Homo sapiens: one gene and its partners. The protein of the gene in region 3 purifies or fractionates together with the protein of the main gene of each other region. This does not show direct contact. Each region holds a gene or a part of one and is shown on either strand. Other genes may lie near its edges.

Region 1 (3,545 bases), on a different chromosome or scaffold from region 3:
GGGTCCAGCACTGGTCCCTGGATATCATTCCCATTTGCCCCCGCAAAGTCAAGTCTTGGATGTATCCAAAAGGGATTTGGTCATTGTGAGGAATAGTTTAGTTTTTGGGAAGCTCCTAGAAATATTTTCACTCTGAAAAGCCATAGATTAAGAAATATGTGAAGATCATAGACAGGCATGAGTCTCTTCTGTTCACTAAATCTGTCATTTGTTACTCCAGAAAGAACATTGGTAGAATTTAAAACAGCAACAACTACAAACGCAGATAGCTCAGCTACTCAGATAGATCATATTGAATTCATTGAACTTTGCTGATCATTAATCTGAAAGCTACCTGGTTGTTTAGGGAGCATCTGAAAATACTACATGGAGATTGTTGGTAATCAGATATCTCTGGAGTCATACTCTAAACCAAGACCCCTGTTGATGCTCACTCTGTCTTTCCTTTCAATCAATCAAATTGCCACTGTTACCCATTATGAGGTCTAGTCAATCTCATTGAGGTGCTAGTGGAAACAAACAACAGGAAAAAAAAAAGGTCTTAGAATTTAGGACAAAACTCTAGGGTTTAAGTTTTAAGACAAAACTCTTTTTTATTTTTTTCATTTTAAAGGCCAAAAAAACTTCATGCATGGCATTTCAAACCAATTTCAATTTACATTACAAATGTAAATGTTATTCCTCTAGCAATTAAGTTTTGCTTAAATACACATGAAAGTGTATGCTTGATTGTAGATTAAGTAGGTAACAAATATTTGATACAGTGAAAACAAAAAAAAATGAATTGATAATGTGTGTGAAAGTGCTTTGTAAACAGAAAAGCACCATGCAAATGTAACATATTATCGCATTTATCATCATTGCCTGAGAATAGCTGACGAGAAATGGTGATATTTCATGTATACAATTAGCTGTTACACAGCAACAATAAAATCCCGGGTCTTCTTAAAATCTAAAGGAAATATTAAACAAGATACACATCTACAGGACCTTTGACTAAATTAACCCCAAGTAAGGCTGTTTGTCAAAGGATGATCTTTCTCCCACTCTCTCTCTCCACTTCAATTTGCATCTCCTTTAAAAATATTTTGAGCTGAGGCAGGCAATTTCTTTGAGTCGTCTTCGTCTCCAGCTATATGGAATGCATGCGTCATCACTCAAGTGCTAAGGCGAGTGAGGGGCCTTCATCATACAGCTGAGCACAGAAGCTGACAACTGTGGCATTTCTCTGTGGTAAAGAGGAGGAGGATAGTCTACATCTGAAAGTGTAACCTGGTAAAACCAGGAGCCCTCCTAGGTGAAGAGCAATCACGGCGAAAGAGATTGGTTATTTTTCCTGAGTGTCCTCTGCTATTACCTAAAGCTACCAGAAAAAAGGCAATGTGGATGAAAATAGTTTTGCTTATTTATAATCTTTTTAGGGTTACTGCTTTTGTAATGTGTTTCATTCCTGTATCAAGGAGATTGTTTTCGCTTTATTCATGTAAATGATATGTCCATCAGTCTAATACTGGGGTGACTTCTTTTTCAGTTTAGGGCTAATGTGTACATCAAATGTGTTTTATTTATGAACTTCAGGAAGATGACAGTTAAAAATTATTCCTTAGTAATTTATTAAAAATATGCAGTTGCCCTATTTCTTAGAATTGTTTAGGATATTGTTTGGCTTCACTCATTGTTAAAAGCAGTAGCTGGATTTATTTTTAAGGCAATTTAAATTATTTCTAATATGACATGGAAGCATCATGTTTGCATAATCTCTAATCCAATTCTAAATGTAAAATGTTGCAGGATTATATAAAGTCAAATTTCTACCTTGAAATCTCTAATTAAATCCTAAATGAAGACACGGACCCTTAAGGTATTGAAACAACGTGCAGTTCAACAGAAATTGAATACAAATTCCCCAATAGGAATTTGGGACCGTTAGCTGTCATTGTCTCAAGGTTTGAACTGGGACAAAAGTCCTACTGCACAACTGGTACTTCTAGCACTATCATTATTCAGTGTTTTTATTCATTTGTTGTTTCATTTATTTGACAAATCTTTATTAAGCACCTACAGGGGCTAGATATTCTCATAGACGACCCAGGAAACGATCTCGTGGAAGAGCCAGGTATCAAAAGTGAGGTGTGCCCCAGCCCTGAAGAGTGCACATACAAGTGCAAAAGCGTGGAAGGGGCCCACGCACCCCAGCTGTAATGGAGAGAGCTGGGAAGTCTCCTAGAAAAGGAGACGCCTAATGTGATAATGAGTTAATTGAGGGGTGAGAGTCAGGGATTATGGGGTAATAGGGGAATGGTGGGGAGTGATGGTATTTCAGACAAAGGAAACCATATGAAGAAAGTCATAAAAGCAAAAACCAATATCTCTATTTGTTCACCTATTTCAACCTAGTGCTGCAGAGGCAGTATAACATGGACTCTGGGGCCAGACTCCCTGGGCTGGAATCCTGGCTCTGCTGTTTGCTGACTCTGTGACCTTTGGTACTTCAATTAACCTTGCTTTCCCTCCATTTCTTCATCTGTTAAGTGAAGATAATAATAATATCTACTTCATAGTACTGTTTTGAAGATCAATATTACCATACAAGAAGCACTTAGAATTGGGCCTGGTATGTAGTAAGAATGGTATAGATGTTAGTTCTTTTTGTTATAAAGCAAATGACAGAGTGCAAAGTAATCTGGCTGGAAGATTGGGCAATAGTCAAATCTTTCAGATTTTTTTCTGCTAGAATAATAAGCTAGAACTTCATGTTATGGGTAATAGGGAGTCAAGAAAGGATTTTCAGCAACGAAATGACATGAGTTTGTGTCTTTGCTACATCACTGGTTTTGTAGAAGATAGAGCAGAGGGGAATGAAAGCGACACACTTAGACCAAGCAATAGGCTGCTGCCTAAATGGAGGCCTGAATTAAGGTAATGATAGAATGGTAGACAAGAGTGTTTAAATAAATATTTAAGAGGTTAAATGAACAGAACTTTATTGATTGGGTAGGATGGATTATAAAGAGGGAAGAATTAGGCTTCAGTTATGAAGACATAAAAAATCAATTCAAAATTTTAAGTAAGGCAAATCAGAAAAAATACAATCACATGTGTTGACAGATGAGTATCTTTAAGGAAACAAGCTACTTTATTTGTTACAATCCACAGACAAGATTAACAACATTACTACAGTCTAGCCAAAAAAGACACGTTTATTTAATTAATTTATTTATTTATTTATTTGAGACAGAGTTTCCCTCTTGCTGCCCAGGCTGGAGTGCGGTGACTCGATCTCGGCTCACTGCAACCTCCATCTCCCGGGTTCAAGCGATTCTCCTGCCTCAGCCTCCCTAGAAGCTGGGATTACAGGTGTCCGCCACCACGCCTGGCTAATTTTTGTATTTTTAGTAGAGACGTGGTTTCACCATGTTGGCCAGGCTGGTCTCAAATTCCTAACCTCAAGCCATCCGCCCACTTTGGCCTTCCAAAGTGCTAGGATTACAGGCGTGAGCCACTGCGCCCAGCCAGAAGACATGTTTATTAGCATTTTCTTTTTT
Region 2 (3,545 bases), on a different chromosome or scaffold from region 3:
CAGCCTTTGATGTGCCTCTCTCCAGGACTGGGCTGCCAGCCTCTCAGCCAGCCCAGAGACACTGCTGACAGGGTCCTCCCGCTGGAGTCCAGGCCACTCAAGGTTCAGACTGACAGCCTGTGGTTGTCTCTGGCAGTTTCTTGGCCTGTGACAAGAGTGATGTTTCCCTTCCCAGGTTCTTGGGAGGATGAAAGGCAGTGGATGAGGAAGCACATCTGAGCACGTGCTGCCTGCTGTGCTGGGGCGGCAGGTCAGCTTTCCTCTCTGCGGCCCCATCCCTGGGTCCTGGCAGGGGGCCCCTCCCTGTGAAGTGGCTTCTTCTTTCCCTGGCTGTTTTCTCAAAACCTCCTCACTAGCACCTTCTGTCGATCATCTTCTTTAGGCCAAGCCATTTCTGTCTACGTGAGCCAGTGCCCCATCCACAGGTACTCATTTCAGAACCCCAGTCTCCTGAATCCAACTGAGGTTCTACATATGAAGAGCCGGGGTCAGCTGGGCACTGTGGCTCCAGCTTGTAATCCCAGACTGGAGGCTGAGGTGGGATGATCATTTGAGCCCAGGAGTTCAAGATCAGCCTGGACAACATAGGGAGACCTCGTTCTCTACAAATAATAATAATAAATAATTAATTAATAGAGCCAGGGTCAAGTAGATGCTCACTAAGTAAGGCTCAGCTCCCCTCCTAAGTTCTGCAGGCTGTAGGGCCCTCCCAGCCAGGCAGGGATATGAGCCTGACTTCCTTTCATGCCCAGGCCAGGGACCCTGCCAAGAAGGTGGCAGGAAGCCTGGAAACCACTAGGCCTCTACTAGAGAAGAGGTGTTTGCTCTTCTTCTGTGTCCTTTCTGTGCCAGCTCCAATGTTTGCCCTTGGCAGCTGCCCCACCACCCTTGGGTTCCATGAACTGGCATGGGATAATTGCTTCAAAGGGGTTGTTGGGCCAGCTTGTGGAAGCCTTAACTCAGGAGGACAGTGTAGTAGAGTGGGAAGTTCATGAGGCTTGGGACCTGAGGAATAGATGAGCCACTGGACCTCTGTGAGCCTCAGTTTTCTCATCTGTAAAATGGACTTGGTGATCCCTGCCGTACCTTCTTCCTGGACACTGAAGATCTACTGAGGAAGGTTTCCTTTTTTTTTTTTTTTTGAGACGGAGTCTGGCTCTGTCATCCAGGCTGGAGTGCAGTGGTGTGATCTCAGCTCACTGCAAGCTCCGCCTCCCGGGTGAACGCATTCTCATGCCTCAGCCTCCTGAGTAACTGGGACTACAGGTGCCTGCCACCATGCCCGGATAATTTTTTTGTATTTTTTTAGTAGAGACAGGGTTTCATTGTGTTAGCCAGGATGGTCTCGATCTCCTGACCTCGCCCATCTCGGCCTCCCAAAGTGCTGGGATTACAGGCATGAGCCACTGTGCCCAGCCTTTTTTTTTTTTTTTTTTAAGACACGGTCTCTCTCTGTTGCCCAGGCTGGAGTGCAATGGTGCCATCTAGGCTCACTGCAACCTTGAGCCATCCTCCCACCTCAGCCTCCCAAGTAGATGGGACCACAGACACCCGCCACCGTGCCCACCTAATTTTTGTATTTTTTGTAGAGACAGCGTCTTGCCATGTTTCCTAGGCTGGTCTCAAACTCCTGGGCTCAAGCAATCCACCTGCCTCAGCCTCCCAAAGTGTTGGGATTACAGGCATGCACCACCACACCCAGCTTAAGGAAAGTTTTCCATTCCATGGAGATGAGAGGGCTCACCATTGTCACCTCAGGAGCCAGGGCCACCTGCTGTGGCACCCCAGAGAGTGGAGAAGCCTTGGCCCTTCTGTAGGTCCCAGGCAGGAGAAAGAAGGGGACTCACTGGGCTTGACAAGCTGGGGACACAAGAGGAAGTGGCAGAGATTCTGTGGGAATGGCCACAGCTAATCTGCCCAAGCCAGCCCCATCGCCACTTCCTCAGTCTGTTTTCGCCACCCCCGTTCACGTGGACGTGCACACCTCCCAGAATGCTGAGCTTTGAGTTTGGGCCTGGCCATGCTAGGGAGTGACTCACCACCCAGCACGGAGAGCCTACTCCCCAGCCTGCCCGCCAAAAGGAGCGGCCTCAGCTTGTCCCCGCTAGGACCCTTCGGGCCTCCTGCCCTGGAGGTCATCTCCCCTAGAATACAGTGTCTGTGGAGAAGACAGGCCCACCTACTGGGCTGCCCCTCTCCTCCCACCAGCTAGGGGAGCAAGAACTCAGAGGAGAGCTTCAGAGCATCAGGGAGGGGGCGCATGACTGCCTGCTGAGCTTCCAGTGTACTGGCCCTGTTTCAACATCTGAGGAGCCGTGAGCCCCTCGAGCCCTCTCTGGCCCCTGGGTTCCTGTCTGTCAAATAAGGAGTTCAGCTGATGGCTGAGTTTCTTCTGTTTCAGCATTTTGGCTCTGTGAACTGCAGGGACAATAGCCTGAGGTCCCTCCAGCCACCTCTGCCTCAGCCAGCAGGACAGGTTCCAGACGTTTTTCCAGTAGCTTTCAGGCTGAAGGGGAGCTGGGGCCACGCTGAACCCAAGGGGGAGATGGCTTCTGCTCAGTGAAGGGAAAGGAGAAGGGGCAGAAAATGAGTTTTGCTGAATACCTGCCATGTGCCAGGTCATGTATATATCCTTATATCATGTATTGCTTCTGACAGTTTGTCAGTGTTGGTATGATTACCCTGTAACTTGTCCAGCCTGTGGGACTCAAAACTCTGGGTTTTCTCTGTATTCTGCCTTTTCTGAGTATAAATTCAAGCAAGGTTTAACCCTGGATCTGCCTTAAGCCTCAGAGTCCCCATCTAAAATGAGGATCCTTGTTGTAAGGCTTAACGGGACAGTCCCCATGAAGTGTCCTATGAATTGTGCATTTAAGGAAACATGGGCTGGGTGCAGTGGCTCACACCTGTAATCCCAGCACTTCGGGAGGCTGAGGCAGGTCAATCTCTTGAGGCCAGGAGTTCGAGACTAGCCTGGGCAGCATAAACAAGGCTGCATCTTTGCAAAAAATACAAAAATTAGCCGGGCATGGTGGCCCATGCCTGTAGTCCCAGCTACTCAGGAGGCTGAGGTGAGAGGATCATATGAGCCTTGGGAGGCTGAGGCTGTAGTGAGCCGTGATTGTGCCACTGCACTCCAGCCTCAGTGACAGAGTAATACCCTGTCTGAAAAACAAAACAAAAAAACAAACGTTGTTGGCCGGACGCAGAGGCTTATACCTGTAATCCGATCACTTTGGGAGATTGATACGGGTGGATCACTTGAGGTCAGGAGTTCGAGACCATCCTGGCCAACATGGTGAAACTCCGTCTCTACAAAAAATATAAAAATTAGCTGGGCATGGTGGTGGGTGCCCGTAATCCCAGCTACTTGGGAGGTTAAGGCAGGAGAATCACTTGAACCTGGAAAGCAGAGGTTGCAGTGAGCCAAGATCGCGCTGCTACACTCCAGCCTGGGTGACAGAGGGAGGCTCCGTTTCAAAAAAAAAAACAAGAACAAAAACAAAAGACAACAAACAACAAACGTTGTGAAGAACTGACAGCAA
Region 3 (4,190 bases):
TGGTTTTGGTTGAGGCCACAGATCCTGGAGCTAGGCTGCTGGGTTCAAGCCCTGGCTCTACCAATTATCAGCTATGTGATTTAGTCTTCTCAGCTATAAAAAGTGGGTAATGATGGCAGTAATACCTTAGGGTTGTTACGGGAGCTCAAGTGACTTAAGTAAGTATAGCTCACAGAACAGCAGTGGGCACATATAGTAGTAAATATGATATTATACAAAGGTCTTAGCATCATTCCTGACGCATGATCTATGCCCTTGCTATTATCATGAGATTGTTATTGGAGATGCCAAAAGTAGGGATGCCTCTCTTTTCTGGAGTGTACTCACACTGATACTGTAAATGGGCATAAAAATATCTAGCTCATAAGACTGCTATAAGGATTCCATGAAATGATGTAAATCATCTGGTGTAGATTAGACACTCAATCAATTTTGGTGCTCACCTCTGCCACTTTCCTCTTTTTCCACATTCCTGGAACATAGTGGACAGCATCAGTAAGATGGTATCAGGGATGGAGTATGGAATGGTGGAAGTGAGCTACAATGGAATAACTCTAAATTATTCAACCAATATTTTTTTTCCTAGAAAAAGCTATTAATTCATTTTTTGTTGTTGAAGAGAAAGCTCTTCCTTTTCTAAAATATGATATCTATTTCTTAGAGCAGGCACATTCTCCCTAAGGCTGTAATTCTTGTCATGTTTGCATGAGCAGTCACATAGAAGTATTATTTTCAGAGATATTGGAATATGAGGACATTTTTATGTAGTTTACTGTGATTTTAGTTATATGCTAGAAAGATTGCCTCCTAGCTCATTGTTCTGTTGTTTTGCATATTAGAGAAAATGTTGGACCACTGAATGATTGGGCTAGGAGTGGGAGAGTGAACCTCAACAGGACAGGATTTAGGTAGCCAGAGAAAGTTACAGCATTCTAGTAGCAGCCTCTGGGGAGGGTTAGGGTTGCCATGGCCACTAAAGATGGTGATGATGTCCTTTGACTTGGCCATGAAGCTGCCATTGTCCTGTGTAGCTGCACCACTGGGGTGGTGAGTTGGAAGTAGACATCCCTGGACGGGCACATCCACTCCATGGGAGTAGCCAAATGCACAGGGACTTGGTTCAGTCTGCACCCCTGTGACTGCTTTTTTGGTTATCTTGACAAAACTGAGCCAGTTTCTCAGTTTTAGATTCCTCTTCATTTGGGGTGTGTGTGTGTGTGTGTGTGTGTGTGTGTGTGTGCACGTGCGTGCGCACCTGGTTTCTTCTGAATAACTGTGGACACCTGGAAGGCAGTGCCTCTATCTCAGTCTTCTGACTTGCCCAGAGGGTTCTTTCCTAACTGGACGTTGGTAAATTAGATAGAGCATCAGCTCTGGCTCCTCTTTCTGAGATCTCTCTGCCGCTACAGGGAATGGGCTCATGTAACAGTAGGAAAATTGGTTGAGGGGCCAGGAGACATGATTCAAATCCCATTTTGCAGTATGGTCATAAGTAAGGTTTTTAAAGTTCTCCAGAAATCAGTGCTCCTCTGTAAAATAATGAGACTAGACGAGATGATCCCTTGAGCTTTGTCCAGCTTTGAGCCTGTGGAGTATAATGACATAAACCTGACCAAAGGGGCACACTGTGTTGTTTATAGAGACAGTGCAACTGAAGTATCTCTGAAAGAAAAAGGGGATGAGGTGATACTTTGTTTTGAAGTTGTAGGAGAAGGAGAAAAATTCTCTTTGATTTTCAAAGTGTGTTATTTTAGTGATTGGTTGATTACTGACAGATATGTTTAATTTTTTAAAAAGTGTTCTTTAGTAGAAGGAGACAGAGTAACACAAATACCTACAATTTGTAGTATCCTTGTTTATAAAATGTCTTGTCGTGCATTATCTCATTTGCCTTCACATGACATAGAGCAGGTGTTCTCCTACTTTCCTGTGAGGGAACGTGCCTCATAAAGGCGATGTGCCTGATCATCTAGGCCCAGATCCCAGGTCTCCTGGTTCCTTGTCCAGGCTTCTTTACATGCTTTCAATGTTTCCCAAACTATGGCACTCTAATTGTGCCAAAGATAATTTTGGGGGGCATGTGGAAATTAAATCTTTCAATGGGTTGATAATTTATTTTCATGAATATTAGGAAGAAATATATAACATACACCTAAAATCTATAAATTCATGGCTATGAGAGCAGGGCGCAAGGGTAAGTTTTAAAATAAATGAGTCAATTGAGAGGAAAACATTCACTAACTGTAAGTAGTGGTGGAATTGAGATCTGACAAAAATCCTCAAGGTGATACACAAAGGACTATTTCTTTCATCTCCTTCATAATTATCAAGCATTTATAAAGCATCATGCCTTCTTCCCGGGGCTTTTATAGTCGTTCTGTTTAATTCATACAACAACCTCATAGTCTTGTTACAACCCATATCCTTCAGTGAAGGAGAGTGTGGTTCTGCCTATTCATTTTTTGTCAGTCGTTGATTTTTTTTTTCTTCTTTTCCCATTAAGGGGATGAAATATTCCCTGAGCTACCTCCCTGCTGAATATGCTTAAGTATGTTCCAGGTTATCTTTTTGAGCCTTCGTTATTCTACTCCATATCGAAGGTCAACCTTTCTAGTTCTGTCTCTATGTACCGAATACTCTGCTTCTCTGGGGTGTGGTGATATCATACCATGAGTTTAAAATTTAGCCTTAGCTATACAGCTTAGCTTATTAAAGTTTCACGTTTACTTTTCAGGTTGTTGTGCAGTTGTGGTATTAGCCAGTTAGAGATGTTGTGCCTCTTGCCTCCTCTATAAGTCACCACAGATATATAAACTGGGGACACATTAATATAAGCTCTGATATCAGGCTGACTTAGGTCTAAATTCAACCCCTTACAATCTGTGTGACCTGGAACCTCAGTCTTCTCACCAGTAAAATCAGAATAACAGGGTTACATATTCATAGAGTTGAGAAAATTAAATGAGATAATATCCATAAAAGTTTTAGCACAATGCTGAGTGCATAGGAAGGGGCCTTCAGCAAAAGCCATAATTACTATTCCCCTTTGAAGTGCCATCAGGCCATCTGTTATTTTGCCTCCCTGATCTTCCTTTAGCTAGGAGTCTCTCTATGAGCCCCTCAAGCTTGGGAAAATTCTCCAAGCCTTAGCAAATGGTCTTGACATGCTGCTTCCCTCCTCGTTTAACTTAGAAACTTGTTCTAAGATTTTCATTCATACCCTGATTTAAAATCTTTTCTGATTAACATGGACCAAACGCCTTGTCTGTCTCACACTTCCTCTCTCCATGCACAGTGGATCCATCTCTTGACTCTGGAATAAAAAGGCCTAGGTTTAAATCCTAGCTCTGTTTCTGGCTGGTTGTGTGGATTTTAGCAAAACACCTCTCCTCTCCAAGCCTTGATTTTGTCATCTATATGGTGGAAATAAAAACATCTGTGTTATCCATCTTCTAGGATTTTAAAGATTAGATCCAAAGTATATGTGAAAATGCTCTGTATGTTATAAACCACTATCTATGTGTTCGCTATTATTTTTATTACCTTCTGCACTGGACATGGGCTCTACGTCAGCTTAGAACATGGCTTAAGAGCATGGTTACCCCAATCTGTTTTTCTAGTAAAAATAGGTGTAGATGTAGCCTTCATTCCTTCATTCCTTGACCTTGAACAAGCCTTCCTGGGTGAGCTGACCAAAGTCTATGACATCTGCCTTCTTTTCCTAATATCAACAACTGTTTATTGAATATTTATTATATAGCTAGCACATTCCTTAGATATTCCATTGATTCCTTCCCAATGATCCATGTGCATGTGATGCCTATTTTTATGATCTTCACTTTGTGGAAGGAAATTGAGCCTTAAAAATGATCCTGCCCAATGTTAGCCAGTTAAGCATGTGATAAAGCCAGTACTTGAATCTGGAGACTCAGGCTGCAGACTGCAGATGCACATCTCAACTCAACAGAATGGCTCCCTGCCCTAGTTTGGGTTGATTATTGATCACTACAAAGATGTCATTTTAGTAATTTCACTTTTCACCTTCACTTTCCACCACACTATAAGGTTCTGTAACTCGGGATGTGGCAGTCATGTCTTCCCCTCCCATTTGAAGTCTTTGCTTCTTGTCCTGCACCTGTCTATCAAAAGGCTGGGAGGCTGGAATGTTGGGAAGTCACTTAGGTGGATAG
Region 4 (3,545 bases), on a different chromosome or scaffold from region 3:
CTCTGTGCTCTGGAAAGCTCCAGAATTGTTCGAAAGGCATTTCTTCTTAAATTTTTTTGAATATTAACAAGTTCTAATGTGAATATAGACATGCTATGAAATCTGAAAGTCATCTGTTGATAACAGTATCAATGTAATAATATAAAATCTGATACACACACACACACAGAATTGTGTAATATTGTCAGGAAAATGAGGCAGGAATTTGTTTGTGGGGTGGAACCATAAAAGTTTAGAAAATAAAAGTGAAATGTCCTAATGCAATAGACTAAGTCTTGTGCCACATCTTTGAAAATGTAATGGAGTAAACATAAAGAAGTTCTTCTTTGGACTCTTTATCTGAAACTTCTTATAGTCGTTGTATGAGATACTTTGCTTCTGTGTTTAAATCATGAACTCCGCAATTGAGTTGTCTGTACACCACATCTTGCTGACAGTCCTCCAGCACATGATTTGTTCTCAGGTGTTTATTGGGTGTTAAAGTGATGTGAGTGGGGAAGAAATAAATGATGTGTGATATCAAAGTGATATCAAGCAGAACAGAGAGAAAGAGTGAGTCAGTAATGAAGTAAACGAGCTTCACCTACACGCTGGGTACTGTCAGGCTTCAGTGGCTCTGTGGTTTTGGAGGGCAGAGAGGAGATTTCCCTCACACTGCTCCCACAACCATATTTTTAGTGTATAATTATCTGGCTAAATAGATTTCTGTTTAATTTAGCACAGGCACTAGAAAATGTGCTGCGTAGACTGGGTGTTAAGAAAACTGTCTTGATTTAGGAGTTGACAGGTAGTAACTTTAGCTTTCTTTGTTTATGATTTTACTATTTTCTAACCAGGTGCTGCTGTTGGAATTCCACTCAGTGAAGATGAGGCCAAAGTCTGCATGGTTTATGATCTCTATAAAACCCTCACACCCATCTCAGCGGCATATGCAAGAGCAAGAGGTCAGACTCATAGGGCTTTTTGATTTGGGGGAGAAAGAAAAAGCAATATTTTATCCTAAATAGAATAAAGAGGATAGAATAAAGAAAAAATATATAGATATTCTGTATAATATATAGATGAAATTAAGGACTTCTATCTCTATGTAAATATACAGTTATTCTATATAATATAGTTTGATTAAAGTAAAATACCCTTTGTTTCATTATAGGATTTCCTATTTAATTTGTTTTATTAATATTTGAGATTGATTCTGTGAGTACCTCAAAATACATTTCTTTATAAAAGTGTATGTTAGTATTTTAGGCCGGGCGCAATGTCTCACGCCTGTAGTACCAGGACTTTGGGAGGCTGAGGCGGGCAGATCACGAGGTCAGGAGATCGAGACCATCCTGGCTAACACGGTGAAACCCCGTCTCTACTAAAAATACAAAAAATTAGCTGGGCGTGGTGGGGGGTACCTGTAGTCCCAGGTACTCAGGAGGCTGAGGCAGGAGAATGGTGTGAACCCGGCAGGTGGAACTTGCAGTGAGCCAAGATAGCGCCAGTGCACTCCAGCCTGGGTGACAGAGCGATACTCCGTCTCAAAAAAAAAAAAGTATTTGTTAGTATTTTAGTGTAATAAATGGAAACACAATTGGAATTTGGTCAATGTAATTTTGCTAATTTAGGCTATTGAATGCATTTGTTATTGTTTAATATGTGACCAAAATTGAAATTACAAAAAGCTATTCTTTTTTTTTTTTTTTTTTTTTTGAGACAGCTTCTTGCTCTGTTGCCCAGGCTGGAGTGCAGTGGCGCCATCTCAGCTCACTGCAACCTCCACCTCCTGGGTTCAAGCGATTCTCCTGCCTCAGCGTCCTGAGTAGCTGGGATTACAGGTGCGTGCCACCACACCTGGCTAATTTTTTTGTATTTTTAGTAGAGACATGGTTTCACCATGTTGGCCAGGCTGGTCTTGAGCTCCTGACCTCAAGTGATTCACCTGCCTCAGCCTCCCAGAGGGCTGGGATTACAGGCGTGATTTATGGCTCTTCTAACTTTACTACATTTGGTTAGAGTCATGTTTTATCAGAGACATTTACTTGTTGAATTTAATAACCCATGAATATCCCTTTAGTATTTCTGAAAGTTCTTGAGAAACTATTACCATAGTTTATCATCTACAGCAGTGGTCAGCAACTTCAGCTGAATCCAGCCTGCCACCCTGTTTTTGTGAATATAGTATATATAAATTGGTCCTTCACAGAAAAAGTTTTCTGAGTGTCACTCTAGAGGGTAAAATTAAAGAATACTTTCTTACTGGTTACTTCAGTTAAATGACTTATTGATCTGTTAAAATCTTATGTAAACAGTAAGATTAGCTTTAGAGTAATGAATTTTATATGACAGTGGAGAATTTTATTACTTTTTCTGTATCAGGATACTTTGTGATAAATACCTCATTTTAATTTTATTTACAGGGGCTGATAGGATGTCTTCATTTGGTGATTTTGTTGCATTGTCCGATGTTTGTGATGTACCAACTGCAAAAATTATTTCCAGAGAAGTTAGTGGACATTCATGTATCTTAATCTGTGTGTTGAATAAAGCTTTATTTGTTCATAATGTTAATTGAAACCATAACCTATAATATTTATATTTATAATATCTTTTAATTAGCTAAGTTTATCATTTAATGTTCATATTTTAAATAGAACATTAATCTTAAATTGTTAATTTTGAAATGTAGTGAATTATTGTTTCAGATGGATATTTGGCTGTTATGATGTTTTTTACTTATATATTTATTTTAAATTCTTTGTTGTCTTCATGCCAAAGTTACTGTTTCTGAAGAGCAGAAGTTGTAATTTTAGGTGGTGATGCGATATAATCCATCTTACTGCATAGTGGGTAAAAAACAGAAACTACATTAATAAACTTACCCCATCAGTTGAATACCAAACAGGTATTCCAGACAGGTGGGGGTACTGTTGGTAGTAGGAAGACAGGAAGAAAAGAGAAAAAGATTAAATAGCTCAGAAAGGGGAAAAAAATAAGCAGAGGTGAAGGCTGAAGGAGCATGTGGCTTGGCACTATTTTGTTGCTTTAGGATTCTTTCCATGGCCACTGCCATCCCTGGGTTACAGGTTACAGGAGGGCTGTGACATTTGTATCTTTCGTCATGTCAAATCTCTGATTTAATCTGGTCTTGCTGTTAAGGAAAACGCCTTGCCGGAAGAGGTCATTTAACCATGTACTAGGAGAGTCAGGACTAGAATGTGCTCTTGCTCATTCAAAACACTCCCTGAAGAAATATTTCCTCCTGAGGTACATGTGTTAAGAGCAAATCAGTCATATTTTCTTAGTTTAAACTGAAACGAACAAAAACTTGGAGAGGACAGAAAGTTAGGATCTGCTATACAGAAAGCTGTATTCTAATAGATTTCTCTTTTCAAGTATAGCGTTAGCATTGTTTGTTGGAGGCAGAAACCAGAATATGCTGCCACATTATTTAAGACTGATAATTGCTGCTAGATTTTTTTAAGAGGTGTTCTCTGATTTTTAAAAATAGAAATTAAAATTTAATATTTTTGCAGGTATCTGATGGTATAATTGCCCCA

What was found.
Region 1: the proteins of KCNAB1 (region 3) and EPHX4 purify together in Homo sapiens (co-immunoprecipitation; one large-scale study listed by IntAct). This does not show direct contact.
Region 2: the proteins of KCNAB1 (region 3) and SLC35F6 purify together in Homo sapiens (co-immunoprecipitation; one large-scale study listed by IntAct). This does not show direct contact.
Region 4: the proteins of KCNAB1 (region 3) and ATIC fractionate together in Homo sapiens (co-fractionation; one large-scale study listed by BioGRID). This does not show direct contact.

The regions. Positions count from the first base shown.
Region 1 is NC_000001.11:92,036,440-92,039,984, forward strand, and holds part of EPHX4 (epoxide hydrolase 4), read left to right. Parts: intron 1-3,545.
Region 2 is NC_000002.12:26,767,239-26,770,783, forward strand, and holds part of SLC35F6 (solute carrier family 35 member F6 precursor), read left to right. Parts: intron 1-3,545. UniProt on the Homo sapiens protein: Involved in the maintenance of mitochondrial membrane potential in pancreatic ductal adenocarcinoma (PDAC) cells. Promotes pancreatic ductal adenocarcinoma (PDAC) cell growth. May play a role as a nucleotide-sugar transporter.
Region 3 is NC_000003.12:156,126,680-156,130,869, forward strand, and holds part of KCNAB1 (voltage-gated potassium channel subunit beta-1), read left to right. Parts: intron 1-4,190. UniProt on the Homo sapiens protein: Regulatory subunit of the voltage-gated potassium (Kv) Shaker channels composed of pore-forming and potassium-conducting alpha subunits and of regulatory beta subunits.
Region 4 is NC_000002.12:215,332,514-215,336,058, forward strand, and holds part of ATIC (bifunctional purine biosynthesis protein ATIC), read left to right. Parts: intron 1-836; coding exon 837-944; intron 945-2,405; coding exon 2,406-2,491; intron 2,492-3,521; coding exon 3,522-3,545. UniProt on the Homo sapiens protein: Bifunctional enzyme that catalyzes the last two steps of purine biosynthesis.